Linked DNA regions of Homo sapiens: regions 1 and 3 are each linked to region 2. The links come from fine-mapping of genetic effects on gene expression. A gene starts in region 2. Each other region holds a variant in brackets. All regions are shown on one strand. Distances are between the middles of the regions.

The links.
Region 1: its variant is fine-mapped to the expression of PPP1R14A in whole blood (TOPMed, PIP above 0.99).
Region 3: its variant is fine-mapped to the expression of PPP1R14A in whole blood (TOPMed, PIP above 0.99).

Annotation. Positions count from the first base shown.
Region 1 is chr19:38,220,149-38,230,691 of GRCh38, forward strand. DPF1 (double PHD fingers 1) reads right to left here and starts at 4,074. Exons shown (of 12, transcript NM_001135155.3): 1 at 3,966-4,074; 2 at 2,400-2,560; 3 at 2,209-2,316. The coding sequence starts at 3,994. RefSeq lists silencers at 3,839-4,408, 9,452-9,831 and an enhancer at 7,331-8,101. The variant G/C (reference allele first, on the strand shown) is at 3,180.
Region 2 is chr19:38,250,489-38,261,031 of GRCh38, forward strand. It overlaps PPP1R14A (protein phosphatase 1 regulatory inhibitor subunit 14A), which reads right to left and starts at 5,886. Exons shown (of 4, transcript NM_033256.3): 1 at 5,651-5,886; 2 at 2,406-2,486; 3 at 1,818-1,850; 4 at 749-958. The coding sequence starts at 5,851. The coding sequence ends at 830. RefSeq lists a silencer at 5,678-5,865.
Region 3 is chr19:38,363,343-38,373,885 of GRCh38, forward strand. It overlaps CATSPERG (catsper channel auxiliary subunit gamma), which reads left to right. Exons shown (of 29, transcript NM_021185.5): 21 at 1,549-1,629; 22 at 1,719-1,775; 23 at 3,814-3,970; 24 at 4,167-4,230; 25 at 4,339-4,434; 26 at 4,706-4,795; 27 at 6,630-6,722; 28 at 6,817-6,916; 29 at 7,184-7,601. The coding sequence ends at 7,450. Among named protein-coding and RNA genes, the nearest start is that of PSMD8, 6.0 kb to the right of the region's middle. The variant A/G (reference allele first, on the strand shown) is at 3,549.

The sequences.
Region 1 (10,543 bases), 30 kb before region 2:
CTGCACTCCAAACTGGGTGAAAAAAAAAAAGAAAGGAAGAAGGAAGGAAGGAGGGAAAGAAAAGAAAAAGAAAGAGAGAGAAAGAAAGAAAGAAGGAAGGAAAGAAAGAAAGAAAGGAAGGAAGGAAAGAAAAGAAAAAGAGAGAGAGAGAAAGAAAGAGAAAGAAAGAAAGAAAGAGAAAGAAAGAAAGAGGCCGGGTGCGGTGGCTCACGCCTGTAATCCCAGCACTTTGGGAGGCCGAGGCGGGCAGATCATGAGGTCAGGAGATCGAGACCATCCTGGCTAACACGGTGAAACCCCGTCTCTACTAAAAATACAAAAAATTAGCTGGGCGTAGTGGCAGGCGCCTGTAGTCCCAGCTACTCGGGAGGCTGAGGCAGGAGAATGGCGTGAACCCAGGAGGCGGAGCTTGCAGTGAGATCGCGCCACTGCACTCCAGCCTGGGCGACAGAGCAAGACTCCGTCTCAAAAAAAAAAAAGAAAAAGAAAAAGAAAAAAGAAAAAAAGAAAGAAACAATTAGCCCTCCAGATACACCTAGACCCTGGGGAAGACACAGCCAGATGAGATGCTTGGACACATAGCGGGGAGATACCGACATACTCAGGGAGAATCACTCAGCTAGATACACACAAACACACACAGGAGACAGACAGGAAGAGACACAGCCAGGTGGGCACTGCCACGCTCCTGGGTACACACAGACCCTCGGACTCAGGAAGAGAAACTGACCCCGAGGATCCCGATATTCCTAAACACATTCAAGGGTAAGTCCAGATCCTCTGATGGACTGGCACACACGTGCAGAAATACACCTGATACGCCAGACACCATCAGGAAGATTCTCCCAGACACTCCGAGGCACCCACACACCCACAGAAAGAGACGGCCGCACCGCCTAACACACCCAGACACACTCGGGAGGAGCCGGACACCCTGACAGACCAGACATACACAAGACACAAGCCTTCTAAGACACTTGGAGACACCTGGGAAGATACACCTAAGAGAGGAAAGAGCTCCAACCAGACACTGAGACATCCAGACGCCCTTGGGGAGATACAGAGGCAGACACCCTCAGGCACCCACAGAAAAAAATACAGGCAGATGGCCGGGCATGGTGACTCAAGCCTGTAATCCCAGCACTCTGGGAGGCCAAGGCAGGTGGATCACCTGAGGTCAGGAGTTCGAGACCAGCCTGGCCAACATGGTGAAACCCTGTCTCTACTAAAAATACAAAAAAATTAGCCGGGCATGTCAGTGTGCATCTGTAATCCCAGCTACTCAGGAGGCTGAGACAGGAGAATCGCTTGAACCCACTAGGCGGAGGTTGCAGTGAGCTGAGATTGCGCCACTGTACTCCAGCCTGGGTGACAGAGCCAGACTCCATCTCAAAAAAAAAAAAAATACAGGCAGACTGATCCATCCCAGTTCCCAGGGGAAGGGACACAGTCAGCAACTCCATACACCCACACACACCTAACAGATATCACTATGCCCTCCAATACCACTGGGACCCTTGGTGGGGCATGGTGGTTCACGCCTATAATCCCTGCACTTTGGAGGGCTGAGACAGGAGGATCCCTTGAGCTCAGGAGTTCAAGACCAGACTGGGCAACATAGTAACACCCTGCCTCTATTTAAAAAACAACAGGCCAGGCGCGGTGGCTCACACCTGTAATCCCAGCACTTTGGGAGGCCGAGGTGGCCAGATCACCTGAGGTCAGGAGTTCCAGACCAGCCTGACCAACATGGTGAAACCCCGTTTCTACTAAAAATACAAAATCAGCCGGGCATGGTGGCGCATGCCTGTAATCCCAGCTACTCGGAAGGCTGAGGCAGAATCGCTTGAACCTGCTAGGCGGAAGTTGCGGGTTCAAGGTTCAACTCCCCGCTAGGTGGAGGTTGGGGGATCACGCCATTGCACGCCAGCCTGGGTGAAACTCTGTCTCAAAAATAAATAAATAAATAAATAAATAAATAAATAACAACAACTGGGCACCTGGGCCCATGTAGGAGGAGATGCAGTCGCCACTCAGTGACTCAGAGAAACTGTGGAATCTCTGGGAAACACCCGGGACGCACATGGGCAGACAGACACACAGCCAGCCAGGCAGACACTTGCTAGAAGGCGATAAAGGTGATGGACGAGTGCTAGGACACACAGCAGGCGCTGGGACACCGATGGGGGCCCCAGCGGCTGCACCCACCGATCTTGTACTCGCAGGGCCTGAGTCTGGGGTCCTCCAGGATGTTGAGTCTCCGTTTCTTCCTCCAACAGCGGGCGGGGTACGTGTAAATCTGTCCCGGGGCCAAACCTGGAGAGAGAGGGGGGTGAGAGGGCGGCGGCGGTGGGGCGGCCTGGCCCCGCCCCGCCCTGCGCCAGCCCTCCCGGCGGTACCCGGCCCGCGGTGGGTCTTCTCCATCCAGATGTAGCAGTTGTTCTGGGCCACGCCGGTCTGCGAGTCGAGGAAGGGCAGTCGCAGGCTGCGCTCGGCGCACAGGCGCGCGTTGTAACTGCGGCAGTGCTCGATGGCCTCGCGGTAGAAGTCCTCGCCTAGGCTAGAGGGGCGGCGAACGGGCGGGCGGCTGTCAGCAAGGGCAGGCGCACAGGGTCGCCCAGCACCCCTTCCCCGGCTGCCGGGCCGCCCAGGCTCGGGAGGGGTGGGCCGACCCCTCCAGCCTCACCTCTCCCCTCCTCCCACTCCGGGACCCAGGCTGGGGGAAGGGGACAGGGCCCAGGGGCCCCCAAACTGGGACTCAAACAGGCCCCCAGCTCATGAGTAGAAACACGATACAGAAACAAACAAAAACACACCGGGACGTATCCCTACCTGAACACATGCAGACACACAACACAAATCACACACAGTCACACGGGATTCACACACAAAGAGAGACAAATCCCAATACTCACAAAGGAGAAACAGACAAACCTCACACACGTGCACACATAAATATCTACTGAAAAAGACAAATATCCCAAGTTCCATAGTGTGGAGACAAATCACACAAATAACCATGCACAAAGACACATCACATATCCACAGACACACACCAGAAACACATCACCCACACAAAGACACACAACATGGAAACATCACACCACACACACATACACCCCCTCATGCATCCAAAGACACAAGCATGTCAAAAGACAGGAACTACAGAAACCACTTGC[G/C]CCCCTAGGCACTTACCCATGTATCCAAAGACACAACACAAACCACACACACAATATCCAGACACACAACACAAAGAAATCACACAGATTCACACAGGTACACACACACATTTACAAAGATGCACGATGCGCAACCAGTATCTAAAATATCACACATCCACACAGACACACACACATATAAAACACAGAAACAGCCAAATCCACCCATAGTCACACAAAAATTTACACACAAATACACGCAGCCCTACATACCCAAAAACACAGAACACAAGACAAATGACATATAGTTCCAAAGGACACGGACACACACTGGGAGACCCAAATATCCAAAGATATCTAGTGCAGAATAAAAGGAAACAGACACATGTCCACACACCTATCCCCCAAAAATTCTTAAAAAAACCAGAACACAAATAAGTGATACACACACACACTCCACATCCCAAGACAAAGGTAGTGTGGACTTCACTCCAGTTGCCAAGGCCCCCGCACCCCCGGGTCATTTCAGTCTCTCCCAGACCCGAGGGTTGCAGGGAAGGGATGATGTCTCCCTTCCCCAAAAAGAATCTGGAGGCCCCCCACGCCCTCCACCCCGCCAGGGAGCGGTGCATCCGACACCATTCTTGTCAGAGACCCACAGTCACACACTCTCGCACCCCCGCGCAGCCCCGCACTCGGTGACAGCCCCCCAGACACCCCTTCGGCCCCACCCCCGGTCGCCACACACACACAGGCCCGCGTAGACCCGCCCGCGCTTCCTCTCCGCCTCCCGCCGGCCCGCACCACCTCAGGGGGCCAGGGATGACAGTGGCCATCTTGCTCCCCGGGTCCTGCCCCCAGCAGGTCCCCGCCGGGTCGGTCCTCCCAGCGGTCGGGCGGGCGCTGAGGCCGCCCATCCATTCATTCCCGGGGGGCGGGAGCACGAGGGCCACGGCCAATCGCGGCGACGGGGCGGGCCCGCCCGGGCCATGCTGGGAGTGGTAGTCCCAGGCCAGGGGGCCCCCGGGACCCCGCGGGGACGGGACGGCGCGGAGGAGGGGCCCGGGGCACGCACCGTCACTCACCCGCCCTCACTCGTCCACATATCCTGCTCTCGCGTGCACACAACCACATGCACACCTGGACTCGCACACGCCCACGCATGGCAGTTTACACACACATTCACGCGGATACTCACAGCCTCCCACACACTCCTACTCACACACCTTCGCACGGACTCACACAGCCACACGCACACACACTGCAATACTAAGAGACGCAGAGACACCTCCCAGGTGCCCACACAGACTTCTCACCAACATGCTTCCAGCAGACACCCCCTCACCGCCCCCCACCCAAGTCCCTCCTGGCTCCAGAGACCCCACCCGGGGCTGTCTCTCCCAGCAGCCACGCTCACGGTCACCCCGCCCTGCTCAACGCCTTCTGCAGGCCTGACAGCAGCAGTGCAGGTTAGAAACAGTAGTCACACCTCCAGGGTTCAAATCCTAGCTCTGCCACTTGGTGGCCATGTGACCTTGGCAAATGACTTAACCTTTCTGGGCCTCAGTTTCCTCATCTGTAAAAAGAGGATGATGCCTCACTGGAGTGTTGTGAGGATTAAATGAGTAAATATAGGTAAAGCATTTTAAGAGGTGACTGGCAGGCCAGGCGCAGTGGCTCACACCTGTAATCCCGGCACTTTGGGAGGCCCAGGCAGGTGGATCACCTGAGGATGGGAGTTCGAGACCAGCCTGGCCAACATGGTAGTAGTCTCTACTAAAAATACAAAATTAGCCGGGCATGGTGGCGCATGCTTATACTCCCCCACTCAGGAGGCTGAGGCAGGAGAATCACTTGAACTCAGGAGGTGGAGGTTGCAGTGAGCTGAGATCGTGCCATTGCACTCCAGCCTGGGCAACAAGAGTGAGACTCCCTCTCAAAAATAAATAAATAAATAATAAGAAAGAAAGAATAATGCGGCCAGGTGCGATGGCTCCAGTCTGCAATCCCAGTACTTCGGGAGGCCTAGATGAGAGCACTGCTTGAGCCCAGGAGTTTGAGACCAACCTGGGCAACATATCCAGACCCCTGTGTCTACAAAAAAAAATTAAAATTAGCTGGGCATGATGGCGCAGCAGTGTAGTCCCAGCTACTTGCAAGGCTAAAGTGGGAGGATAGCTTGAACCTGGGAGGCTGAGGCTGCAGTGAGCTGTGGTCTCACCACTGCACTCCAGCCTGGGTGGCAGAGCGAGACTCTGTCTCTAAAAGCAAACAAACAAACAAACAAACAAACAAAAAACTAAGTAAGCAGGGCGCCGTGACTCATGCCTGTAATCCCAGCAATCTGGGAGGCTGAGATGAGAGGACCGCTTGAGCTCAGGAGAACAGCCTGGGCAACATAGCGAGACCTGGTCTCTACTAAAAAAAAAATAAATAGCTGGGCATGGTGGCACATGCCTATGGTCCCAGCTACTCAGGAGGCTGAGTCAGGAGGATTGGTTGAACCCAGGAGATCGAAGCTGCAGTGAGCTATGATCACACCACTACACTCCAGCCTGGACAACTGAGCAAGACCCTGTCTCCAAAAAAAAAAAAAAAAATAGATGCTCAGTAGATATTTGTTGAATGAGTAAATGCACCCATCATGTGCTGGGCACAGTTCACCCCGGGATGCTTTTATTATCTGCATTTTCCAGGTGAGGAATCTGAGGCACAGGAAGGTAACCTCACATGCCCGCATGCCCTGGCGGCTCTTTGAAGGTAAGACTGAAGGAAGGAGGCAGGCACCCCTGACGGCCCTCCCCAAGTAGTCCTGACCTCCTTCTCTCTCCCACTGTCACCCACACTGACTCCACCCGAAGAGATCCCCAGGGAGTGAGCAGACCCACTGAGTCACAAACTGACCCAGTCTCTCTGCAACACCACCACCCCGTCCCCCCTCCCGTCTCACCCCTCCTCCCCCTTTCCCCTTCCCACCCCTTCTCCCCCTTTCCCCTTCCCCTCTTCCACCCGGACCCCTGTAGAGCCAGCATTCAAATTTGGGCGGCTGCTGTAATTAACACGCCCACAAACGCCCTCATCCACCAGGGGGCGCCCCAGCCGACAGAAGTGGCCCGCTAGCCTTCACCATTTTTGTCACTTGAAATCCCCCCAAGAGAGAGATCCAGTCAAGGCCTCCTACACTCACGGTCACTTCTACACACACACACACACACACACACACACACACACACTCCTCTAGTCTTAGACCCTTTCCACAAACTCGCCCATCTAAGCCAGGTAAGGTCTTGGCCGGCCCCTCTCCTGGAACAGGAGGTAGGTCTCTGATTCACATATGGCCTGGAGTGGTGACAAGGGGATTAAGTGAGGGGCACTGACACCCCTACGATCACTCTGGCCTCCAGGGCCCTATAGTGGCCACCTCACACCTTACCCACGGTGAGCTGTGACCCCACCTTCCTCTCTCACCTCCCATTAGCTCACAGGTCCCGTAACACACCCTCTTACACTTGATTCCCACACCGCTAGCCTCAGACACGCAGACTCACTCCTGCCCCACCCCAAACTCTCATGTCGATTTGATTAAGAGAAGCCCGAGTGTAGACACTGAGTGCAGACCTTCCTAACAGTCCTCCTCTACCAGCAGAATTTCTATTTTTCTTTCTTTTCTTTTCTTCTTTTATTTCTCTTCCTTCCTTCCTTCCTTCCTTCCTTCCTTCCTTCCTTCCTTTCTTTCTTTCTTTCTTTTCTTCTCTTTCTTTCCTCTTTCTCTTTTTCTCTTTTTTTTTTTTGGACAGCGTCTCACTCGATGGCCCAGGCTGGAGTGCCATGGCATGAACACAGCTCGCTGCAGCCTCCACCTCCCAGGCTCAAGCGATCCTCCCACCTCAAACCCCCAAGTAGCTGGGACTACAGGCCTGTGCCACCGCACCCGGCTAATTTTTGTATTTTTGTAAAAACAGGGTGTCCCTGTGTTGGCCAGGCTAGTCTCAAACTCCTAAGCTCAAGTGATCTGCCCACCCTGCCCTCCCAAAGTGCTGAGATTACAGGCATAAGCCACCATGCCCGGCCCACCAGCAGGATATCTACCCACAGACGCAGGCTGACACTTGCAGCGGGCTCTCCTTTCTTTCCTTCTGCCCTAACCACCTGCACACACCACTCCCACATACTCTCCTACACACTTGAACTCCCAGTCCTCTCCCTGGCCCAAACAATCCTCCTGCCCCATCCCCCAATGCCCTGTGTGGGAGCTGGCCCACAGTAGAAATCAATTTCATAAATCAATATTGATACTACTAATAATAATCACTACATTTGGTCAGTGTCAGTCTCTGTGCTAACTGCTTTACAAAGATGGCCTTAGCCCCACGACAGTCCCATCGGGTGGTAAGGGCTGTTAGAAGCCCCCATACACAGATGGCAAAACTGAGGCTCACGGCAGGGAACATTCGTGGCTCAAGCTGGTTTTGGAACTCAGGCAGTCGGAACTTCCGAGGGCGGCACCCTGCAGCTCCTTCTCCCCAGGGGATTTGACTCACATTCTTTCAGGAGCCAGGGAGTCCCCACCTTCACCCCCACAGAGACCTTTTGGAAGGGAAGGGCACAGAGGGGTAGGGCCCTCCCAGTCCAGGCTTACTGTAGCTGGGCCCCTGCTCACGGCTGTAGCACACCTCCTCCCAGGGGTCTGGGCCAGGGTCAGGGTGAGGGGCCCCATCGCCTGTAGATCCACCAACCTGCACAAGAGCCCCGTTCCCAGCCATTTTGCGGATGTCCCCTCACAGGAGAGACAGCTGTCTGTGTGTGCCACTTAGGGTGAGAGGGCAGCAGAGGGGTGTCACCATCATACACCACCTCACACGGACCCGAGCCCCACACACCCGCTCCCGGCACCCTGCTCACGGCGAAGCCACACGTGTAGGCGCTTGCCTCTAAGTCCCTGCCCCCCTTCCTCTCCCAACTCCCACCCTCCACCTCCCACCCCCATTCCCGCCAGAAACCAGAAGCAACTGGCGGCCTCTGGTCCAGCCAGCAGGCGCATCCCTTCTCGTGGGTGGGGTAGGGGGGCGCTCCCTCTCTCCCTCTCTCCCCCCACCCCCCACCCCCGCCCCCAGCCCTCGATGTTCAAGGTCAAGGCAGCCAGCGCACGGGGTTGGGGGAAGGGTGGGGGAGGTCGCCCCGGCCCCTTTGTGCGACGCCGCGGGCGCTCGCCCTCCGCCTCCTCCACCAGGCCCGGGAGGAGGGGGAGGGGAGCGCCTCGCTCGCCTGCGGGGAGGGAGGGCGGGAGCGGCCGAGTGCCTGTCACTTGGAGCCCGCTGTCACCGCCTGGGAACGGGGGGTGGGGAGCGCTGGGACGTGGAGTCCGGGATCCCGAAGAGGAAGCAAGAGCGAGATGGAGAGGGGGAAGGGGAGGTGTGGAGAGCGCGAGGGATGGCAAGGAGAGGAGAGGGTCAGGAGGGGCCAGGCTCGGACCCAGGCTTCCGGATTCCCAGCCACCGGGCCCGGGAAGAGGCGAACGCTCGGAGGACCGCGGCCAGGGAGAAAGGGAGGGAATCCCCGGAGACCGAGGGCGCTCCCGGCACCCCCTCCTGGGCAGCCGGTCCCCAAAGGGATCAGAGATGCTCCCGTTTGATGTGTATGCGCGGGGAGAGGGAGGGATGCCGCGGTCCAGACTGACGGCGGGTTCGGGGCTTCCAGTTCCCGGGATCCCGGGAGGAAAAAGGGGAGGCAGCGGGGATGGAACTGGGGACCCCCGACGTCTCAGCTCCCACCCTGCGGCCGCGAGGGCCGGGGTCCTCAGAGAAAGAAGGGGAAAGAGAGAAAGGCGCTTTGATGAGCGGAGAGCGGGTGATGGAAACCCTGGAGACCGAGGTCCGGACTTAGGTGTTCGAGCTTTCAGCCCCGGCCGGGGCAGGCCCGGCACCTCCGGAGACCCTGAGGGAGAGATGGAGGAGAGGGAAACCCCTACCCCCACTCTGGGTGGGGAAACGGCCTCCGCCACCCCCAGCCCGCGCCGCATTCCTTCACTGACAGCGACAAAGAAGAGGCGCCCCCGCGACCCTGGAGGGGCTCCCGCCCCCAACCCCAGGGGGCGACAGGGGGTGGGGACCCCCGGGGCAAGGGTTCGCGCTGGGGGCCCCCATTCAACTACGGTCCGCGCGCTGCGTCCCCCTCCTCAGCCCCAGGGCGGGCGGGGGAAGGGCTCCTGGTGGGGGGGTCTGGACAGGGGGCGGGGACGGCAGGGACACTCACGACTTGAGCGGGTTCTGAATGGCGGTGGCCATGGCCCGCTCGGCTGGGCCGCCTCCGGCCCGGGGCGCCGCTGCCGCCGCGCGCGGGCCCAGCCCGGCCTGCGCCGCCCGCTCTGCCGCCCAGCGCGCTACGATTTCATTCATTCTTGGGGCTGCGGCGCGAGCGGAGCGGGGCGGGCCGGGGGCGGGGCTCAGCCAATCCCCGCGCCTCCCAGCGCACGACGGGACGTGGAGTCTAGGGGCGCGCGGCGGCGCCCGAGGGCGCCCCTGCCCGGACTACACGTCCCAGGGGGCGTCAGGAGGACCGCGCTCCCATTGGCTGCTGGGGATACAGGGAGGGGCGGGGCTCCCCCCAGAGCATCTTTCCTCCCTCCCTGGGAGTGCTCGGTCTCCAACTCGGGATCTCCACCCTCCAGGCACCGCGGGCGCGGAAGCAGGTGGTCCCTAGCTTCTAGATGTCCCCAGGGTATGTGGATGACCCTAGGGTCTGTCGTGTATTCTTGTCTAGGCCTATTTGGGTGTCTCTTCTATGTCGGACAGCCTGTGAACAAGCACAGGGGTTAATCAGTGCCTTTGTTCATTTACTGAGTGCCTGCTGTGTTCCAGGAACTCTTCTAGGCACTGGGGATACAGCAATGACCAAAACAAAGTTGCCGCTCTCAAGGAGCTGACATTCTAGTGGAGAAAGACAGATAATAAGAAAATAAATAGATAAAATCATTTCAGACAGTGAAAGGTGCTATAAAGAAAAGAAAATGGGGCCAGTCGTGGTTGCTCATCACTTTGGGAGGCCTGTAATCCCATCACTTTGGGAGGCCAAGGCAGGTGGATCATCTGAGCTTAGGAGTTCAAGACCAATATGGGCAACATGGCGAAACCCCGTCTCTACCCAAAATACAAAAAATTAGCTGGGTGTGGTGGTGCATGCCTGTAGTCCCAGCTACTCAGGAAGCTGAGGTGGGAGGATCACTTGAGCCTGGGAGGCAGAGATTGCAGTGAGCCGAGATTGTACCACTGCATTCCAGCCTGGGTGACAGAGCGAGACCCTGTCTCAAAAAAAAAAAAAAAAAAAAGAGAGAGAGAGAGAGAGAAAGAAAGAAAAAGAAAAAGAGAAGAGTCCAGGCACACACCTAT
Region 2 (10,543 bases):
TGGCCCTGGCAATATTTGGTGTTTTCCCTGGCTCTGCCCCAATATCAATCCCTCCACCCATAAGTTCAGAGTCCTCAGAGAAGGGTATCCATTTCACAGAACTCCTATGCATCCTTCAAAGCCCACCTTAATGCCACTTCCTTCAGGAGGCCCTCCCAGATTTCTTCACCACCCCCAGAGTGAATAGCTCCCTCCCCTCTGCCAAGCTCCCAGGTATCTTGAGCCATTCAGCACACTTTGTTCTGATTCTCACACTCAGGCCCTTCTCCCCCCATAGTGTGTGAGCACCTTGATGCCAGAGACCATCTTCCTCTCATCTTTGCAGCCTCAGTACCAAGGGCCATTATAAGCACAGCGCAGATTTCATGGAGTGGCTGAATGATTTGTTTGCTGTGTGATCACCTGTACTGAGTCAATATCGGTCACCTTTGGTCATGAGCATGCCCCTTGACCCAGATTCCTGCAGGAGCCTGCATATAGGGGCCCTGCTTGCTGGGACTGGGGATGGGGGTGGGGTGGGGAGTTCAAGGGAAGGCAAGGTCTAGGATATAAATCCCAAGGGCGTGGGCTCAGCAGGGCCCGTTCTCATGCTTTCTGGCCCGGGAGGAGTGATTCTCCATCTGGCAGGCCCAGCTGCAGTGCTGGGACAGGGACATGAGCAGAGGCCACAGGAGGAGAGAGGGAGGTTGTGGGGGGAGCTCGGGGAAGCCCATGGTAACCCGGGGGGAGGAAAAACAGCCACACAGTGTTATTGTTACAGAACCATTAAATACAACTTATACACAAGCAAGCTGGGCGGCGTCCGGGGGGCAGGGAGAGTGCAAGAGGGTCAGGGGTGAGCAGTCCGGGCCCGGTCCTGGAGGGGGCTGAGGCTGCCGTCGTGGGAGGGGCTTGGCTGGCGGAGGCCGGGCTGCCTGTGGAGGCCTTGAAGCTTTGCCAGCAGCTCCTGGATGAAGTCCTGAGACAGGGTGGGGGAGCTGAGAACATGGGAACAGTGCGGGGGCACCCTCTGCCCCTGTCCAGCCCAGTCCCTGACCTGGGCGCCTCCTCCTGTTCTCTGATTGTGGGGTGGGGGGAGTTAGGGGCGGAGGCTATAGACATAGAGAGAAAAGTGAGCCGGGAGAAAGACAGAGATGGGGAAAGGGCGATGGGAGGGATGGAGAGAAAGAGCTAGGAAGAGAGATAGAGATCCAAGGAGACAGATACGGAGTGGGGGAGGGGGAGAAACAGACACAGAAACAGAGAGACATGTAGAGATAGAGACAGAGAGAGACATAAGGACAGAGAAAGAAACAGAGACATGTGGAGACAGGTCCCCAGAGATAGATCCAGGGCGAACAGAAATGCAATGACGTTTGTCCCTAGAGCTAGTTGGAGAAACATGAATAGTTTTCCCTTTTAAAGCAGGGAAGGAAGTGGGAGGGGTTGGGCCGCTCAGCTTCAGGGCCTGGGAGGATGGAGGGCCCCCAGAGGTGGGGAAGGGAGCCCGGGGTGGCGGAGGCAGTGACAGGGGAGGACAGAGGGAGACTGAGCCCGAAGGCTGGTGGCCAAAGGACAGGCACAGGAGAGGCAAAAACAGGGCAGATGGGGGAGGACAGAATGGAGCCCCCTCAGCAGATGGGGGAGAGAGGGAGAGAGACAAGTAGGAGGACAAAAGACACCCCTGGAGACCAGAAAGAGCTGCGGAGGGCAGGTTGGGGCCGGGGGTGGTGGGGCCGGGTGGTGTTCCCCAGAGACCCTTCTGCCAGCTTCTTCCCCCTCCCCCATCAGAGTACTTGGGGCCAGAACAGGGAGAGAATGAGGGAGAGAAAACTCACCTCGACAGGTTTCCCACATGACTTCAGGAGTCCCTAAAACCCCCAACCAAGAACAAAACAAAACAGTAAATGACTAACACCTACTCCCCTCCAGCCCCTTCCCTTTCCCAAAAGGCCCCAGCAGCAAGACAAATGGAAGTCAGACTCCAGGGTGGACTGCCCACCAAGCTTCAAGAGAGGAACAGAGCCCAAGGGGCATGTGGATCGACTCAGGGCAGGGGTGAGTTACTAGATCCAGAGAGGGCGAGAGGGTCACACAGCACTTCCCTCCTCTAAAAAGGTATAAGCCATAAGCAAAGACATGGCTGCCAAACTGCCTGGGTTCGATGCCCAGCTCTGCTCCTTCTGAGCTGTGTGACACTGGGCAAGGGATTCAACCTCTCTGGGCCTCATTTTCCTCATGGGGAAAATGGAGCTCACACTAGCGCCTGCTTCGGAGGGTTTTGTGAGGGTTAAGTGAGTGAATACATGTAAAGCCATCACACCAGTGCCCGGCATCTAGTGAGCACTCAGTAAACACGTGAACTATTGCTATTATTTTTAGGGAGGTGCAAAGTGGGAGGCTGGGGGACACGTCCCCCCACCTACCTGGATTTTCCGGCTTCTCTCCTCTTCACTCTCTAACTCCAACAATTCATCAATGTTGATCTCATCGGGCATGTCTGCCTCCTAGGGCCAGGGAGGGAGGGGTGCTTAGGATCCCCTTCCCTCCCTCCCTCGCCTTTGTCCAGGGCTCTGCAGGAGCCCCACCGGCCCCAGGGCCCAGCTGGCGGGTTCTGGAGCATTAATGTGGCAGTCCGGGACAGCACTGCCAAGACGGGACATCTGGGTGTTGGGGGGGAGGGGTGACAGATGGGCTGAGAGAGCCCCGGGGCCCTGTACCAGCCCGATGCCTGGGCCCATGGGCCCCGGGAGCCTCGGGGCTGGCACGGGTCTCTCGCCTTGGCTCTAGTTCCCACAGAGGAAAACAGGCCTAGTGGAGTCCTGGAATGTCAGATTCTGGGATTCGGGAGAGGAGCTGGCTTCTGCCCTTTCAAGGAAAAGTCTTAGCACTAGGTGCAGGGGAGGAGAGGCTGGCAGCCAGCAGCCAGCTGGGGCGGCCCCTTCCCCCAGGGGACAGGAAGGGAGGGGACAGGAAGGGAGGGGACGGCTTGGGCCAGCCCCCAGAGGGCCAAAATGCAGCCTGGTGAGACCGAAGGGAGGACCACCGAGGCCCCTCAAGGTGGGTGGGTGGGATGAGTCATGGCTCAACTCAGCTGCTAAGAGCGGGGCGCTGAGTGTGGCCTCTACAGGCAGTGGCCCAAGCGCAGGCTGGCTCAGTACCCCTGCTGGGAATAGGACCCAGCTGTCCCCAGCTGTCGAGGGAGCAAGAGAGCCTTGGGGTTATGAATCCTTTCCTCCCCAACCCAAAGTCCGGCTGTCGGCTTCAGGCCTGGGGCTTCAGGGCTGGATGGTCCTGGTTCATGTGTGGTGAAGGGGCTTCAGCAAGGACACAGGTGTGTGAGTCTCTGCCAGGGCCACAGCCTGATGCCAAGGGCCTGGGGCTGGCCGAGGATGCAGAGGGACCTGGCATCGTGCAGTGGCTTCGTATAGTGGACTGTGGTCCTGCAGGTGTGAGGTGTGTGGCTCTGGCTTGGGTGTGTGACACATCAGCATGTGTCCACAGTCAGCTGTGGGGCCCACCACCTGAGAATGGCCTCATAGATGCCACCTGCCACTAGCAACCAGATTGGTTCACCTGTATGGGCCCAGGTGTGAGTCTGAGAACAGAGGGACTGCATGTCACCATGGGAGAAGGGCCATGCCTTCCACCATTGTCGCACCATGAAGAGGAGGACTCGTGGGTCCTGTGTACACTGTAGCATACAGAAGTCACAGAAGGCCAGGCGCAGTGGCTCACGCCTGTAATCCTGACATTTTGGGAGGCCGACAAGAGAGAATTGCTTGAGCCTAGGAGTTCAAGATCAGCCTGAGCAACATAGCGAGGCCCCATCTCTTTTTCTTTTTTCTTTTTTTTGAGACAAAGTCTCCTTCTGTCACCTAGGGTGGAGTACAATGGCGCGATCTTGGCTCACTGCAACCTCCGCCTCCCGGGTTCAAGTGATTCTCCTGCCTCAGCCTCCCAAGTAGCTGGGATTACAGCTGCCTGCCACCATGCCCGGCTAATTTTTGTAATTTTAGTAGAGACAGGGTTTCACCATGTTGGCCAGGCTAGTCTCGTACTCCTGACCTCAAGTGATCTGCCCACCTTGGCCTCCCAAAGTTCTGGGATTACAGGCGTGAGCCACTGTGCTCGGCCAATGAGGCCCCACCTCTAAGGAAAAGAAAAAAGAAGTCACTGAAAGTGTGACTTCAAGCAGAAACTCAAGTGATGAAGTACCTGTGTGTGTCAATACATGTAGCTGTGGCTTAGGCTCTTGTGTGCCTGTGAGCAGCGGTGGGTTCTGCAGTTGTATGTCCACCTGTTCCTATAGCTTACAGTTTTTTGTTTGTTTGTTTGTTTTTGAGACGGAGTTTCGCTCTTGTTGCCCAGGCTGGAGGGCAATGGCGGGATCTCGGCTCACCGCAACCTCCTCCTCCCGGGTTCAAGCGATTCTCCTCCCGAGTAGCTGGGATTACAGGCATGTGCCACCACACCCGGCTAATTTTGTATTTTTTAGTAGAGACGGGATTTCTCCATGTTGATCAGGCTGGTCTCAAACTCCTGACCTCAGGTGATCCGCCCGCCTCGGCCTCCCAAAGTGCTGGGATTACAGGCGTGAGCCACCGTGCCCGGTGCTTACACAGTTTTATGTCTGGGTGTAGTTATAAATTCTGTTGGGTTTTGTTTGTTTTTGAGACACGGTCTCGCTCTGTTGCCCAGGCTGGAGTGCAGTGGTGCAATCTTGGCTCACTGTGACCTTGGCCTCTCAGGCTCAAGCAATCCTCCCACCTCAGCCTCCTGAGGAGCTGAGATTACAAGTGCGTGCATGCCACCACGCCCGGCTAAGTTTTAAGATTTTTGGTAGAGACAGGTTTTCCCCATGTTGCCCAGGCTGGTGTTGAACTCCTGACGTCAAGCAATCCTCCTGCCCCGGCCTCACAAAATGCGTGAGCCACTGTGCTGGGCCAATTTCTGTTGTTTTATGTCTTTGAGTGGCTGCGGATCAGCGCTTGTGCTTGAAGGTGGTCAGTTTTTTCTTTAGGAGATAAGGAAGGGCCGTAACTTGAGTCATTTTGTGTTCCAGTGGGGTTGTGCTGTGTCTGCCTACGGCTGTGGCCCATGCCGCTGTGTCTGCGGGTGGCTGTGACTGTAGCATATGTTGAACTGTAGGTGACCCCCCCCCAGCCCCCGCTTGTGTCCTTGTGGGTTTGTGCATGGCTGTTACTTCTGGGCTGTGTCCGTGAGTGGCTATAGCTTCCTTCACTGTGCACATCTGTGTCTGCTTTTGCTTCCTTTGCCGTGGGTCTCTGTGTGGCTGTATCTCCCCTGTCACCATGTCTGTGTTTGGCTTTATGACACCCCCCTTCCCCCACTCTTTCTCCAGACGTGGCGGTTTCAGCTCAACTTAGCCTCCTCCCTCCTCATGCTAAACCCCTGGCCCTCCACAGGCGTTTGGACACATCTCTGGAGACCCAAGTCTTTGTGTGTTGCTCTCGGTGTGTCCACAAGCACAATGCCATAGAGCACGGATGGCCAGGCCAATGAGTGCCCGGCCCTGGGGCGCTCGTCCTCTTGTGCAGACCAGGCTGGCCGTGCACCAGCGAGTGTGCACCGAGACCCCAAGGGCGTGGGGTCTCCGCGCCCGGGCTCTATCTGTCCCCGACCACCCCCGAGCCCTCCCCGGGCTCACCATGCCGCGGTACAGCTCCTCCAGGCGCCCGTCGATCCACTTCTCCACGTCCAGCCGCCGCTGCAGCTCCCGCCGGTCATACTTGACGGTGACGCGCGCGTGCCGCTTCTGCAGCCCCCCGGGACTGCCCCCTGGCCCGCGGGCCCGCGATGGAGACTGCAGCTTGCTCAGCACGCGCTTGCCCAGCCGCTGAGCTGCCATCGCGCTGCTGGACCCAGCCTGGCCCCGCGCTGTGCGCCTTCGCCTCGCGCCCCGGGTGCTTCTTACGGGCCAGGGCGGGGCTAGCCGGGGGCGGGGGCTCGGGCTCGCCGGGAGGTCTGCCCCACCCCGGCCGCCTCAGGCCTCAGTTTCCCCGTCTGCAGTGCGAGAGTAGGCCGCTGCGTCGGCTTGAGGCACGCAGTCGTGCGAAGTTGAGGTATGGGCGGGGACCCAGAGTCCCGGGCGGGTCCCTGCATCGGGGGCTCCCGGGCCGGGATCCTGTGGGGCGGGGGCCTGGGACAGACACTCGGGACCCGGCCTGTCTGCGCCCTCTGGCGGTGGCGGGGTGGGGGGCTGTTGGTGCGGGAGCGCCTGCGCCGCTGTCGCTGTAGAAGGTCGAGCGGTCACTTGTTCCTTCGTTCATTCATTCACTCATCCATCCATTTGTTTGTTCACTCATTCCGTTCAACGAATTTTTTTTTTTTTGAGTCGATGTCTCTCTTTGTCGCCCAGGCTGGAGTACAATGGCGCGATCTCGGCTCACCGCAACGTCCGCCTCCCAGGTTCAAGCGATTCTCCTGCCTCAGCCTCCGAAGTAGCTGGGATTACAGGGATGCACCACAACACCCGGCTAATTTTTGTATTTTTAGTAGAGACGGGATTTCGCCATGTTGGCCAGGCTGGCCTCGAACTCCTGACCTCAAGTGATCTGCCTGCCTCCGCCTCCCAAAGTGCTGGGATTACAGGCGTGAGCCACCGCCACTGGCCCGGTTCAACGAATATCTATTAAGTATCCACTCTATACCAGACACTGCTTTACGCTCCAGGGATAGAGCAGGGAACAAAACAGACAAAACCAGTCCCACGCAGTTGACAGTTGTAGCCGGGATACATGAGAAACACAGTAAGTACGGTATTATACAGTTTATTATCATATAAGTGCTTTGGAGAAATATAAAGCAGAGAAGGAGAAATGGAGTGAGGGTAAGGTTGCAATTTTAGCGAGGGTGGCCAGGGAAGTCCCTTACTTCAAAACAGTCTTCTCACTTCTAATTATAAGCAGCAATAATTATACTCTAAAATTTAAATGTGGCTGGGCGCAGTGGCTCACTCCTGTAATCCCAGAACTTTGGGAGGCCAAGGAGGGTGGATCACGAGGTCAGGAGTTCAAGACCAGCCTGGCCAACATGGTGAAACTCCATCTCTACTAAAAATACAAAAATTAGCTGGGCCTGGTGGCACATGCCTGTAATCCCAGCTACTCGGAAGGCTGAGGCAGGAGAATCGCTTGAACCCGGGAGGTGGAGGTTGCAGTGAGCCAAGATAGCACCATTGCACTCCAGCCTGGGCAACAAGAGCGAGACTCTGTCTCAAAATAAATAAATAAATAAAATAATAATAAATAATTTTTTTAAAAAGGCCAGGCATGGTGGCTCATGCCTGTAATCCCAGCACTTTGAGAGGCCGAGGTGGGCAGATCACGAGGTCTGGAATTCAAGACCAGCCAGGCCAACATGATGAAACCCCATCTTTACTAAAAATACAAAAAAAAAAAAAAAAAAGCCAGGCGTAGTGGTGTGCACCTGTAATTGCAGCTACTGGGGAGGCTGAGGCAGGAAAATTGCTTGAACCCAGGAGGCAGAGATTGCGGTGAGCCAAGATCGCACCACTGCACTCCAGCCTGGGTGACAGAGCAAGACTCCATCTCAAAAAAAAAAAAAAAAATTGTAGAGACAGGGTCTCCCTATGTTGCCTAGGCTGTTCTCCAATTCCTGGGCTCAAGCGATCCTCCCACCTCGGCCTCCCAAGGTGCTGGGATTATAGGCATGAGCCACCTCACTCCACCAGCCAGCCATAATGTAAAACTTTTGAGTTTCAAAGAACATCATCAAGAAAGTGAAGAGACAACCCATGGAATGGGAGGAAAAAAATTGCAGTCATGAAACTCATAAGGTGCTGGGACGAGCCACCACACCTGGCCAAACTATACACTTTAAAAAGGTGAGTTGGGCCAGGCACAGTGACTCACGCCTGTAATCCCAGCACTTTGGGAGGGCAAGGCGGATGGATCATCGGAGGTCAAGAGTTAGAGACCAGCCTGGCCAACATGGTGAAACCCCATCTCCACTAAAAATACAAAAATTAGCTGGGCATGGGGGCACATGCCTATAATCCCAACTACTCAGGAGGCTGAGGCAGGAGAATCGCTTGAACCTGGGAGGGGGATGTTGCAGTGAGCTGAGATCATGCCATTGCACTCCATCCTGGGCAACAAAAGTGAAACTCCATCTCTAAATAAATAAAGGGTGAGTTGTATGGTATGTGAGTTATATCTCAATAAGACTGTGTTTTTTTTTTTTTTTTTTTTTTTTTTTGAGGCAGAATCTCGCTCTGTTGGCCAGGCTGGAGTGCACTGGCATGATCTCAGCTCACTGCAACCTCTGCCTCCCAGGCTCAAGCAATTCTCCTGCCTCAGCCTCCCGAGTAGCTGGGATTACAGGGGTGTGCCACCACGCCTGGCTAATTTTTGTATTTTTAGTAGAAACGGGGTTTCACCATGTTGGCCAGGCTGGTCTTGAACTCCTGACCTCAGGTAATCCACCTGCCTAGGCCTCCCAAAGTGCTGGGATTACAGGCGTGAGCCACCGTGCCCGGCTTCAATAAAGCTGTTTTATTTCAAAATTAAAAACAGGCCAGGCGCCATGGTTCACGTCTGTAATCCCAGCACTTTGGGAGGCTGAGGTGAGTGGATTATCTGAGGTCAGGAGTTTGAGACCAGCCTGACCAACATGGTGAACCCGTCTCTACTAAAAATGCAAAAAAAATTAGCCAAGCATGGTGGTGCACCCCTGTAATCCCAGCTACTCAGGAGGCTGAGGTGGGAGAATTGCTTGAACCTGGGAGGCGGAGGCTGCAGTGAGCTGAGATCGTGCCATCACACTCCAGCCTGGGCGACAGAGAAAGACCCCATCTCTAAAAAAACAAAAATAAAAAACAACTATCCATAGCTACCCATGACCTTCAGTCTAAAGGCCAAACTCTGGTTTAGCAGTCCCATCTCTGCCAGGGACAGTCCCATTTCAGCACCAGCACCTTTCACTCGCAGTTCCCTCTGCCAGGAAGGTTCTTCCCTAGAATATCATCAGGGCTCACTCCTTCACCTCCCTCCAATGTCACTGTTCAGTGAGGTCTTCCCTGGCCACGCTATTTCACACTGCAACTCTCGTGCCCCTCATCCAGCTCTGTTTGATACATAACACTTACCACTTTCTAACATTATATATATATATATATATATATATATTTTTTTTTTTTTTTTTTTTTTTTTTTTTTTTTTTTTGAGTTGGAGTCACCTCAGGCTGGAGTATAGTATTGTGATCATGGCTCACTGCAACCTCTGCCTCCTGGGTTCAAGAGATTCTCCTGCTTCAGCCTCCTGAGTAGCTGGGACTACAGTTATACACCACTGTGTCCGCTTACTTTTTATATTTTCAGTAGAGATGGGGTTTCACCATGTTGGTCAGGCTGGTCTCGAACTCCTGACCTCAGACGATCTGCCCGTCTTGACCTCCCAAAGTGCTGGAATTACAGGCATGAGCCACCATGCCTGGCCTCTAACATTATATATAATGTACTCATTTAATGTATTGTCCATGCCAGGCGTGGTGGCTCACACCTGTAATCTCAGCACTATAGGATGCTGAGGCAGGAGGAGCAATTACATCCAGGAGTTCAAGATCAGCTTGGGCAACATAGTGAGACCCTGTCGCTACAAAAAAAAAAAAAAAAAAAAAAAGCCAGGTGCAATAGTACATGCTTGTAGTCCCAGTTACTCTGGAGGCTGAGTTGGGAGGATCACTTGAGTCCAGGAGATGGAGGACGCAGTGAACTGTGATTGCACCACTGCACTCCAGCCTGGGTGATGGAGTGAGACCCTGTCTCAAAAAGAAAAATGTCATATTTTCTGTTCTGTGCAGTGACAGAAAAAAAAAATTATTGTCTGTTTCCCAACTAGTAGCATACTAAAGGCAGGGGGACAGGACTGGTCCACTTTGGGTACAGGCAAAAAGAGGGTGCACTGTCTGTAGAGAATTTAAAAATAAAAAGCTGACCAAGGCCGGGCATGGTGGCTCATGCCTGTAATCCCAGCACTTTGGGAGGCCAAGGCAGGCAGATCACCTGAGGTCAGGAGTTCAAGACCTGCCTGGCCAACATGGTGAAACCCCATCTCCATAAAAATACAAAAATTAGCCGGGTGTGGTGGTACAAGCCTGTAATCCCAGCTACTTGGGAGACTGAGGCAGGAGAATCGCTTGAACCCGGGAGGTGGAGGTTGCGATGAGCCAAGATCGTGCCATTGCACTGCAGCCTAGGCGACAGACAGAGTGAGACTCCATTTCAAAAAAACTGACCAAAAGTTGGTCTAATTTTTATTTTACTTTGCAGTGACATTTCTAAACAGTGTCAATGATAAAATAGTCCTCCCCAGGGAAGAAACAGAAACAAAAACCTTTTGGTGGTCTGCTTTCTAAACAATTGATGCAATATAAAAAAGGGGGAAAAAAACAATTGATGCAATTACTGTCGGTTTTTTTTTTGTTTTGTTTTTGTTTCATTTTTTGAGACGGAGTTTCGCTCTTGTTGCCCAGGCTGGAGTACAATGGCACTATCTCAGCTCACTGCAACCTCCACCTC
Region 3 (10,543 bases), 110 kb after region 2:
ACTTTTTATTTTTTGTAGAGACGGGGGTCTCCCTATGTTGCCCAGGCTGGCCTCGAATTCCTGGACTCAAGAGATCCTCATGCCTCGGCGTGAGGTGTGAGGTGTGAGGCATGAACCACCCTGTGCTTGGCCCCGTTAGCCTATTCCTTTTTTTTTTTTTTTTTTTTATTGATCATTCTTGGGTGTTTCTAGGACAATAGTGGAGGGAAGGTCAGCAGATAAACAAGTGAACAAAGGTCTCTGGTTTTCCTAGGCAGAGGACCCTGGGGCCTTCCGCAGTGTTTGTGTCCCTGGGTACTTGAGATTAGGGAGTGGTGATGACTCTTAACGAGCATGCTGCCTTCAAGCATCTGTTTAACAAAGCACATCTTGCACCGCCCTTAATCCATTTAACCCTGAGTGGACACAGCACATGTTTCAGAGAGCACAGGGTTGGGGGTAAGGTCACAGATCAACAGGATCCCAAGGCAGAAGAATTTTTCCCAGTACAAAACAAAATGAAAAGTCTCCCATGTCTACTTCTTTCTACACAGACACGGCAACCATCCGATTTCTCAATCTTTTCCCCACCCTTCCCCGCTTTCCACTCCACAAAACCGCCATTGTCATCATGGCCCGTTCTCAATGAGCTGTTGGGCATACCTCCCAGACGGGGTGGTGGCCGGGCAGAGGGGCTCCCCACTTCCCAGCAGGGGCGGCCGGGCAGAGGTGCCCCTCACCTCCCGGACGGGGCAGCTGGCCGGGCGGGGGGCTGACCCCCCCACCTCCCTCCCGGACGGGGCGGCTGGCCTGGCGGGGGCTGACCCCCACCTCCCTCCAGGACGGGGTGGCTGCCGGGCGGAGACGCTCCTCACTTCCCAGACAGGGTGGCTGCCGGGCGGAGGGGCTCCTCATTTCTCAGACGGGGCGGTTGCCAGGCGGAGGGTCTCCTCACTTCTCAGACAGGGCGGCTGGGCAGAGACGCTCCTCACCTCCCAGATGGGGTCGCGACCGGACAGAGGCGCTCCTCACATCCCAGACGGGGCAGCGGGGCAGAGGCACTCCCCACATCTCAGACGATGGGCGGCCGGGCAGAGACGCTCCTCACTTTCCAGAGTGGGCAGCCAGGCAGAGGGGCTCCTCACGTCCCAGACGATGGGCAGCCAGGCAGAGACACTCCTCACTTCCCAGACGGGGTGGCGGCCGGGCAGAGGCTGCACTCTTGGCACTTTGGGAGGCCAAGGCAGGCGGCTGGGAGGCGGAGGTTGTAGCAAGCCGAGATCACGCCACTGCACTCCAGCCTGGACACCATTGAGCACTGAGTGAACCAGACTCCGTCTGCAATCCCGGCACCTCGGGAGGCCGAGGCTGGCGGATCACTCGCGGTTAGGAGCTGGAGACCAGCCCGGCCAACACCCCGTTAGCCTATTCCTGAGTAGAAAATGGCAGCCTTCCGTTTTCCTACCAGCCACCACCTCGCCCCAGCTATGGGTTATTTGAACTGTTTGTTGGACTTTGGGGAGACCTGTTCACCCCTTCATTTCTGCCTCTCCCCTCCTTCAACCCCAGATTACGCTCAAGGATAAAAAGCTTTGCTATGACCAAGGCATTAGTGGACATCACCTTATGGAGACTTCCATGACGGTCAATGTGAGGTCCAAGCCTGGAGGGGAGGGTGCAGGATGGTGGGAAAGCCTGGGCCGGCGGGGATCACCATCTTCACCTGCTCCTACCCACAGGTGGTGGGTTCATCCGGGCTCTGCTTCCAGGAAACACACCTGGGGCCCCATATGCAAGTATTGGAGCTTGGGATACTGGGCCCTGGGAGGGGAAGGTTGGGGTCGGGTCTCAACAGGGCTAATCCCCCTGAGAATCCCACTAATGCATTCATAATTTCCTTTCTTCTCATTCTTTCTCAACATTCATCCACCCACCCACTACCACCCACTAACTCCTTTCATTCTTTTTTCTTTAAGACGGAGTTTCACTCTTGTTGCCCAGGCTGGAGTGCGGCGGCGCGGTCTTGGCTCACTTTGCCTCCTTGGCTCAAGTGATTCTCCTGCCTCAGCCTCCCAAGTAGCTGGGATTATAGGCGCCCGCCACCACGGCTGGCTAATTTTTTGTATTTTTAGTGGAGACAGAGTTTTTCCATGTTGGCCAGGATGGTCACAAACTCCTAAACTCAAATGATCCACCCGCCTCAGCCTCCCAAAGTGCTGGGATTCCAGGTGTGAGCCACCATGCCCGGCCTAACTCCTTTCATTCATTCACGTTTTCAGAAAGGGCCACCTTCCCAGTTGTGCAGGTTGCACACAAACTGGTATGTTCCCTCTGATAACTTTTCTTCAGAGGGAGAATAGAGTGAGCAACAGGGCCGTTTTTTTTTTGTTTTTTGTTTTTTTTTTAACGATGTCTCACTCTTGTCCCCCAGGCTGGAGTGCAATGGTGCAATCTCGGCTCACTGCAACCTCCACCTCCCGGGTTCAAGCGATTCTCCTGCCTCAGCCTCCCAAGTAGCTGGGATTACAGTTGCATACCACCATGCCTAGCTAATTTTTTATATTTTAAATAGAGACGGAGTTTCACCATGTTGGCCAGGCTGGTCTTGAACTCCTAACCTCAGGTGATCTGCCGGCCTTGGCCTCCCAAAGTGCTGGGATTACAGGTGTGAGCCACCGTGCCCGACCTAGGGCCACTTTTTGCAATTGGCACAAAGGTGGCATAAGGGCTGGCCTGGCCCTGCTTTCACATCTCTCTCTTCTTCTGCCCACTCACACATTCCTCATTCAGTTCTTTGGGTGCTTGGTGCTTCACTTGCTTATACACGTGATATCGCCTTTGCCCGGGGCAGACACTGAGGCTCAGAGAGGTGCAGAGTAACCCAGGGAGCTAATAAGTGGTAGAGGAGGGGCGTGCCCCAGAGTTCTTGTTCTCACCCATTTCCCTACCCACTCCCTGGCATGCAGATCCTGGTGTTCCTCCCTCCTGGCTTAGAATGACCTTGGGCAGTCAAAAGGGGTTGTAACAGCCCCCACCTCCTTAGAGTACATGAGATTTCATGTGCTAGACTGAATAAACAAGGAGGAAGTGTGATTGCATCAGGGTGGGCAAGGGGGAACGTGGTGGGATGAGCTCGGAGCAGTGATGGGGCAGAGTAAGCGGAGCCCTTATGGGCCATGGTATGTGAGCTGGCTCCTCGGGAGGGCTCTAAGCAGAGGAGGGACTCGGGTGTCCCCAGGGCCCATCTGGCTGCATGGGGTGGGGGGACATCAATGAGGGGACTGGAAGCAGGGAGACTCTGGAAGAGACAAGGTTGGACAAAACAGGGTGGGGGCAAAGGAGTTGGAGGTTTAGGGGAGAGAACAGGCAGGCTCTCGGTCTTTTTTTTTTTTTTTTTGAGACAGAGTCCTGCTCTGTCACCCAGGCTGGAGTGCAGTGGTGCAGTCTTGGCCTCTACCTCCCTGGTTCAAGCGATTCTCCAGCCTCTGCCTCCCGAGTAGCTGGGATTACAGGCATGCACCACCACACACCCAGCTAATTTTTTGTATTTTTAGTAGAGACAGGGTTTT[A/G]CTGTGCTGGCCAGGCTAGTCTCGAACTCCTGGACTCAAGTGATCAGCCCGCCTCGGCCTCCCGAAGTTCTGGGATTACAGGCATGAGCCACTGCACCAGGCCGTGTTAATGATATTAATGACCATATTGCCCTTGGGGGTGAGGGAGAGCCAGGCAGCTGGTGGTGGTGTTTGTGGGAGGGGGACTGTCCTTCCTGCCCCTTACCCCTCCAGGGGCCTGAGGAGACCCTGGCCACCCCTGTGAGCCTTTTTTCCTCCCACCGAGGGCAACCTGATGGTGCCAGTGTTCATTGGCTGCCCCCCAGGCAAGCGCCTGGCCTTCGACATCACCTACACGCTGGAATACAGCCGCCTGAAGAACAAACACTACTTTGACTGCGTTAACGTGAACCCGGAGATGCCCTGCTTTCTCTTCCGGGACAGTGTGTGTCCAGTCCCTTCCCCTGCACAGTTCACTGCCCTCTTGCCCCCACTACTTTGTGCTCTCCCTCCCCATTCCTCTCCCCGCAGACTACCCACCCTTTTTCCTGCGGCATCTCACTTTCCCCCGTCTCGGTCCTCAGCTTCTCGGGCCAAGCTAATTTCTTCTTCTGGTCTCAATCCCCTCCAACCCCATAGTTTTCTACCCCTTCTTCTTGATTCAAGATTTGGTGACAGGAGACTCCGGCAGTTTCCAGGGCAGGTAAAGGCGTGGCCAGCTTGCAGCTAGGGCAGGTGGAGGGAGTGGAAGGAGATGGGTGCAGGACTCGAGACCCGGAGGCCAGTCTGTGTGCACTTCTGTCCCTGGTAGCTATGTTCTGCTGGTGGTGGGTGGCGGGCCCACACTGGACAGCCTCAAGGACTACAGTGAGGACGAAATCTACCGCTTCAACAGCCCCCTGGACAAGTAATCCCCGTGGGGTCCCACGTGTAATCCACCTTGCTTCCCCTGGAGGCCTTTCCCACTTCCAAGCCAAGCCCACCTCGCAAGCCCCCACCTCTGCGTCTCAGGCCCTGCCCACAGTGGGGCTCTTAGGATCTCACAGGCAAACTCCTGCCCGCCCCTAACACCATGTCCCCTGCACCCACCTGTGGCCTCCCTCCACACTGACCACTGAGGTCATACCTCCCCTACACCGCCCCCCAACCCCTGGCTGAGATGACCTGGGCCTGCACAGGACCAACAGCCTTATCTGGACCACGAGGACCACAAGGACCACCAAAGACTCAGCCTTTCACATCATGTCCCACGAGAGCCCAGGCATCGAGTGAGTGCGTAGCCTGGCCCCTCTTGGCCCCCATCTGTCGGTAGTCCATTGGGCCCACCTATCCTTTCTGCCCCTAGGAGGCCTCTTGATCCCCAAGTCACACTGACTGCCTTTGTGTTACTTAAATGGGGCTGAACTTTGCACAAGCTGAAGTCTCTGCCTGGAATGCTGCTCCCTCCGACTCTTTTCAGGCCTTAGGCAGATGCCCCTTCAGCCAGGAGGACTTTTCTGTTTCAAGATGGGACAATTGTCCCTTCATGGCTCCTATGGCCTCTTGGGGCTCTCCCATCCTGGCCCTGAGCCCCCTACCTGTGCGTCCCCATCCCAGAGTGGACAGCTCTGGGCAGTCACTGTCTGGTGTGGGGTCTGTCTCTCCTCCAGAACTGGGTCCTGAATAGACTCATAAATTTGTTTTTATTTTTGAGATGGAGTTTTGCTCTTTGTTGCCCAGGCTGGAATGCAGTGGCAAGATCTCAGCTCACTGCAACCTCCACCTTCCAGGTTCAAGCGATTCTCCTGTCTCAGCCTCCTGTTTATTTTTTGAGACAGGCTCCCTCTGTGGCCCACCAGGCTGGAGTGCAGTGGCACAATCTCAGCTCACTGCAGCCTCTGCCTCCTGGGTTCAAGCAATTCTCCTGCCTCAGCCTCCCAAGTAGCTGGGATTACAGGCACCCGCCACCATGCCTGGCTAATTTTTGTATTTTTAGTAGGGATGGGGTTTCACCACGTTGGTCAGGCTGATCTTGAACTCCTGACCTCAGGTGATCCGCCTGCCTCAGCCTCCCAAAGTACTGGGATTACAGGCACATGCCACCATGCCCGGTTAATTTTTGTATTTTTTTTTCTAGTAGAGACGGGGTTTCACCATGTTGGCCAGGCTGGTTAACATAGCATGTATTGAATGAAAGAATGAACAAATGAATAAATCAATTCGTGGCAGGCATTTATTGATATCTGAATGGGGGTATTAATGAATGAATAAAACAATGGAGAAACAAATTCATATATAGGGGCTCAGTAAGTTTCATTCAATGAAAGGAAAAAAATGAAGCCATGAGCAAATGAAGGCAGTGAATGAACGAACAACTTGCACCTAGTCAGAATTTAACCTGCTTTATTTTTTATTTTTATTTATTTTTTTGAGACAGAGTCTTGCTCCGTCACCCAGGCTGGAGTGCAGTAGTACAATCTCAGCTCACTGCAACCTCTGCCTCTTGGGTTCAAGTAATTCTCCCAACTCAGCCTCCTGTGTAGCTGGGATTACAGGTGCATGCCACCATGCCCCGCTAATTTTTGTATTTTTTGTAGAGACGGGGTTTCACCATATTGGTCAGTCTGGTCTTGAACTCCTGACCTCAAGTGATCCACCTGCCTCGGCCTCCCAAAGTGCTGGTATTATAGGTGTGAACCACTATGCCTGGCCTAACCTGCATTTATTGGATAATGAATAAAGAAGGGAATAAATGAAAGATGTGACTTTGTACCTAGTAAGTGCTCAAGCTATATTTATGGGATAAAGGAATGCAAGCAGCAAAGAATGAATAAGGATTTGGCATATGATAGATACACAGCCTGTAATCTGGATGGATGCACAGTGACAGAGGAATTGACAGATGGAGGTGTGAAGGCAGGAGGAAATGAATGAGTAGACAACCTGTGGCACAGTAGGCGTTCAGTCAGCATGAATGAATGAGTGAATGAAGGAATGAATGAGGGAAGGCATGAGATTGCACCCATTTGGTCCTCACCGAAAACATTGGGTGGAGGAAGAAATTGGGAGTTGGCACAGACTAGGCATGGTTGGTAGCACAACTGCCTGATCTTTGGCTTGCAGGTGGCTCTGTCTGGAGAATGCCCCATGCTATGACAATGTTCCCCAAGGCATCTTTGCCCCTGAATTCTTCTTCAAGGTGTTGGTGAGCAATAGGTGAGCCAGGCAAGTGGCCCAGGTGCGGGTCAGGGGCTGCCCATGGAATGCCTGGCTTCTCCTCTAATCCTGGATCCCCTCCCAACCCCTGCAGAGGAGTGGACACGAGCACCTACTGCAACTACCAGCTCACCTTCCTGCTGCACATCCACGGGCTGCCACTCAGTCCCAAGCGGGCCCTTTTCATCATCATGGTGAGTGGCTGTCCGGGAGCTGCCCTACTGGGTGGGCAGGGGCCCACGCCTCCATACCTATGCTTGTTATACCTTCGCTCATTCATTCCTTTATTCACTCATCTAGCCATGCTGACTGAACGCCTGCCATGCCACAGGCTGTCTACTCATTCATTTCCTCCTGCTGTCATGCCTCCATCTGTCAATTTCCCTGTCACTGTGGATGCAGATTGTGGACTGTGTACCTTATCATGTGCCAACTCCTTACTCATTCTTTGCTCCCTGCAGGTGTCAGCTAGCGTGTTTGTGGGCCTGGTGATCTTCTACATCGCCTTCTGCCTCCTGTGGCCCCTCGTGGTGAAGGGCTGCACGATGATCCGGTGGAAGATAAACAACCTCATTGCCTCAGAATCCTACTACACCTACGCCTCCATTTCCGGAATCTCGAGCATGCCGTCTCTGAGACATTCCAGGATGGGCTCCATGTTCAGCTCCAGGATGACAGAGGACAGGGCTGAACCCAAGGAAGCCGTGGAGAGACAGTTGATGACCTGAGTGTCCCACCTGCCCCAGCCCCCAGTTACTGTCACGCCTCTCTTATGAGGCCCATCTTGAAGATGCAACCTGTCACCCAGCCCAGGCCTCTCTTTCTGTTTTGCTTGATGTTTACTTCTCGTTCAGACTCAAATAAAGCCTTTTTTCAGGACCAGCAGTGGGCTCTCTTAAAAGCTCGAGTTCAGAAGGTTTGTACCAGCATAGCTGCACATTAAAATATCATAAACCTGGCTGGGCATGGTGGTTCATGCCGGTAATCCCAGCACTTCGGGAGATCGAAGGAGGCAGATCACTTAAGGTCAGGAGTTTGAGACCACCCTGGCCCACATGGTGAAAACTCGTAACCCTGTCTCTACTACAAATACAAAAAATTAGCTGGGCATGGTGGTGCGTACCTGTAATTCCAGCTACTTGGGAAGCTGAGACAGGATAATCCCTTGAACCTGGGAGGCAGAAGTTGCCGTGAGCCAAGATTGCGCCACTGCACTCCAGTCTGGGCAACAGACCAAGACTCCGACTCAACAAAACAAAACAATAAATAAAATATCAAAAACCTTCTAGGCCACCTGTTAAATAGTGGCTTCTCTGTGTGCCTGTTGGCTGAGCCTCTCCCCAGTGTACCCCAGACCTCCCTGTGGTCCAGCAGGATCCTCCACAATCCAGGCCCATTGCTATGGCCGACCATCTGTTCTGATTGTTCAGTGTTAAATATTCTGAATGTCAACACCTATCTAATGTCTTAAGGAGGGGACCCTGGAGACGTCAGGATTCTTATTTTAGTTGCAAGTAGCAAATATTTCCCTCAAATGGTCTACATGAAAATGGTAATTTACAGGCTTCAGGTACAGTTTGATCCAAAGTCCCAAGGTCCACAGGATTCAGCCTTCATTTCTCTGTAGTTTTTTCTTCTCTGTCCTCCTCAGAGTGCAGTCTCTGACCTCAGGACAACTCCCCTCACCATCTGAGGCTAGTTATACAGTCCATAATCTGGATGGATGCGTAGTGACCAATGAATTGACAAGATGGAGGAATGAAGGCAGGAGGAAATAAATGAGTAAAAAAATACCCTGTTGCATGGTAGGCATTTGGTCAGCATTAATAGATGAATGAATGAAGGAGCGAATGAGGAAAGGTATGAGATTGCACCTAGTTGGTGCTCACCCAGAGTGTTGGGTTGGAGGAATACATTGGGGTTGGCATTGACTAGGCATGGTTGGTAGCACAAAAACCTGATGAAATTTGACAATAACAAGAGTTGGCAACACTCATGTGTGTAAGGGCTGCTGGCTAAGGTTGTTTCCACCACCAAGATTCTACCGAGTCACCTCATGGTCCAGGTGAACACATCATAATCCTGTATCAGCCAAGTCAACATGTTATTTAAATATCACCATCTGCACTTCCAGCCAAGATAGAGTGACAGAGACTGGATTTCCCCTCATACTTGAAACTATTTATGTTTTTTGAGATGGAGTCTCGCTCTGTTACCCAGGCTGGAGTGCAGTGGTGTGATCTCGGCTCACTGCAACCTCCGCCTCCTGGGTTCGAGCGATTCTCCTGCCTCAGCCTCCTGAGTAGCTGGGACTACAGACGCATGCCACTATGCCCGGCTAATTTTTTGTATTTTTAGTAGAGACGGGGTTTCACTGTGTTAGCCAGACTGGTCTCCATCTCCTGACCTCGTGATCTGCCCGCCTCAGCCTCCCGAAGTGCTGGGATTACAGGCATGAGCCACCTGGCCTGGCCATATCAACGTGGTATTTTGTTTATTTGTGTCTTTTTCTTTTTTTTTTTGAGATGGAGTTTTGCTCGTTGCCTAGGCTGGAGTGCAATGGTGCGATCTTGGCTCACTGCAACCTCCACCTCCCAAGTTCAAGTGATTCTCCTGCCTCAGCCTCCCGAGTGAGTAACTGGGATTGCAGGCACCCGCCACCATACCTGGATAGATAATTTTTTGTATAGTAGAGACGGAGTTTCACCATGTTGGCTAGGCTGGTCTCAAACTCCTGACCTCAGGTGATCCATCCACTTCAGCCTCCCAAAGTGCTGAGATTACAGACTTGAGCCACCACACCCGGCCATCATTTTTGTTTAAAACATTTTTTACCACCACAACTTCTTTCACATATTAATTTACTCATTAATTCAACACATATATAATTTCTTTCTTTTTCTTTTTTTCTTTTTTCTTTTTTTTTTTTTGAGCACAGTCTCGCTCTGTCACCCAGGCAGGAGTGCAATGGCGATCTCAGTTCACTGCAACCTCTGCCTCCCGGGTTCAAGTGCTTCTCCTGCCTCAGCCTCCCAAGTAGCTGTACTACAGATGTGCACCACCACGCCCGGCAAATTTTTGGTATTTTTACATTTATTTATTTATTTTCTCTGAGACAGAGTCTCACTCTGTCACCCAGGCTGGAGTGCAGCGGCACAATCTCAGCTCACTACAAGCTGACCTCCTGGGTTTAAGCGATTCTCCTGCCTCGGGCTCCTGAGTATCTGGGATTACAGGTGTGTGCCACCACGCACAGCTGGTTTTTTTGTTTTTTTTTTTTGGTATTTGCAGTACAGATGGGGTTTCGCCATGTTGGCCAGGTTGGTCTCGAACTCCTGACCTCAAGTGATCTATCTGCCTCGGCTTCCCAAAGTGCTGGGATTACAGGCATGAGCCACCATGCCTGGCCAACAAATATTTATTGACTGTCTACTAATATTTGCCAAGCACTGAGATACTGGGAATTCAGTAGTGAAGGAAATCGTCCTGCCTTCATGGAGATGACATTCTAAATGGTGGAGACGGAGAGTGAAAGTCGGGTTTGAGAAAAACGTGCTGCCCAGGCGCAGTGGCTCACACCTCTAATCCCAACACTTTGCGAGGTCAAGGCAGGAATATCGCTTGAGCTCAGGAGTTCGAGACCAGCCTGGGCAGTATAATGAGACTCTGTCTCTATAAAAAATTTAATTTTTTTTAAAAAGAGAGAAAAAGCGATGTTGAATGTGCAGATGTAATATCAATCAGTGGAGGAAGAAGTTGGTATAAGAAGTTGTGAATACTGGCCAGGCAAGGTGGCTCATGCCTGTAATCCCAGCATTTCG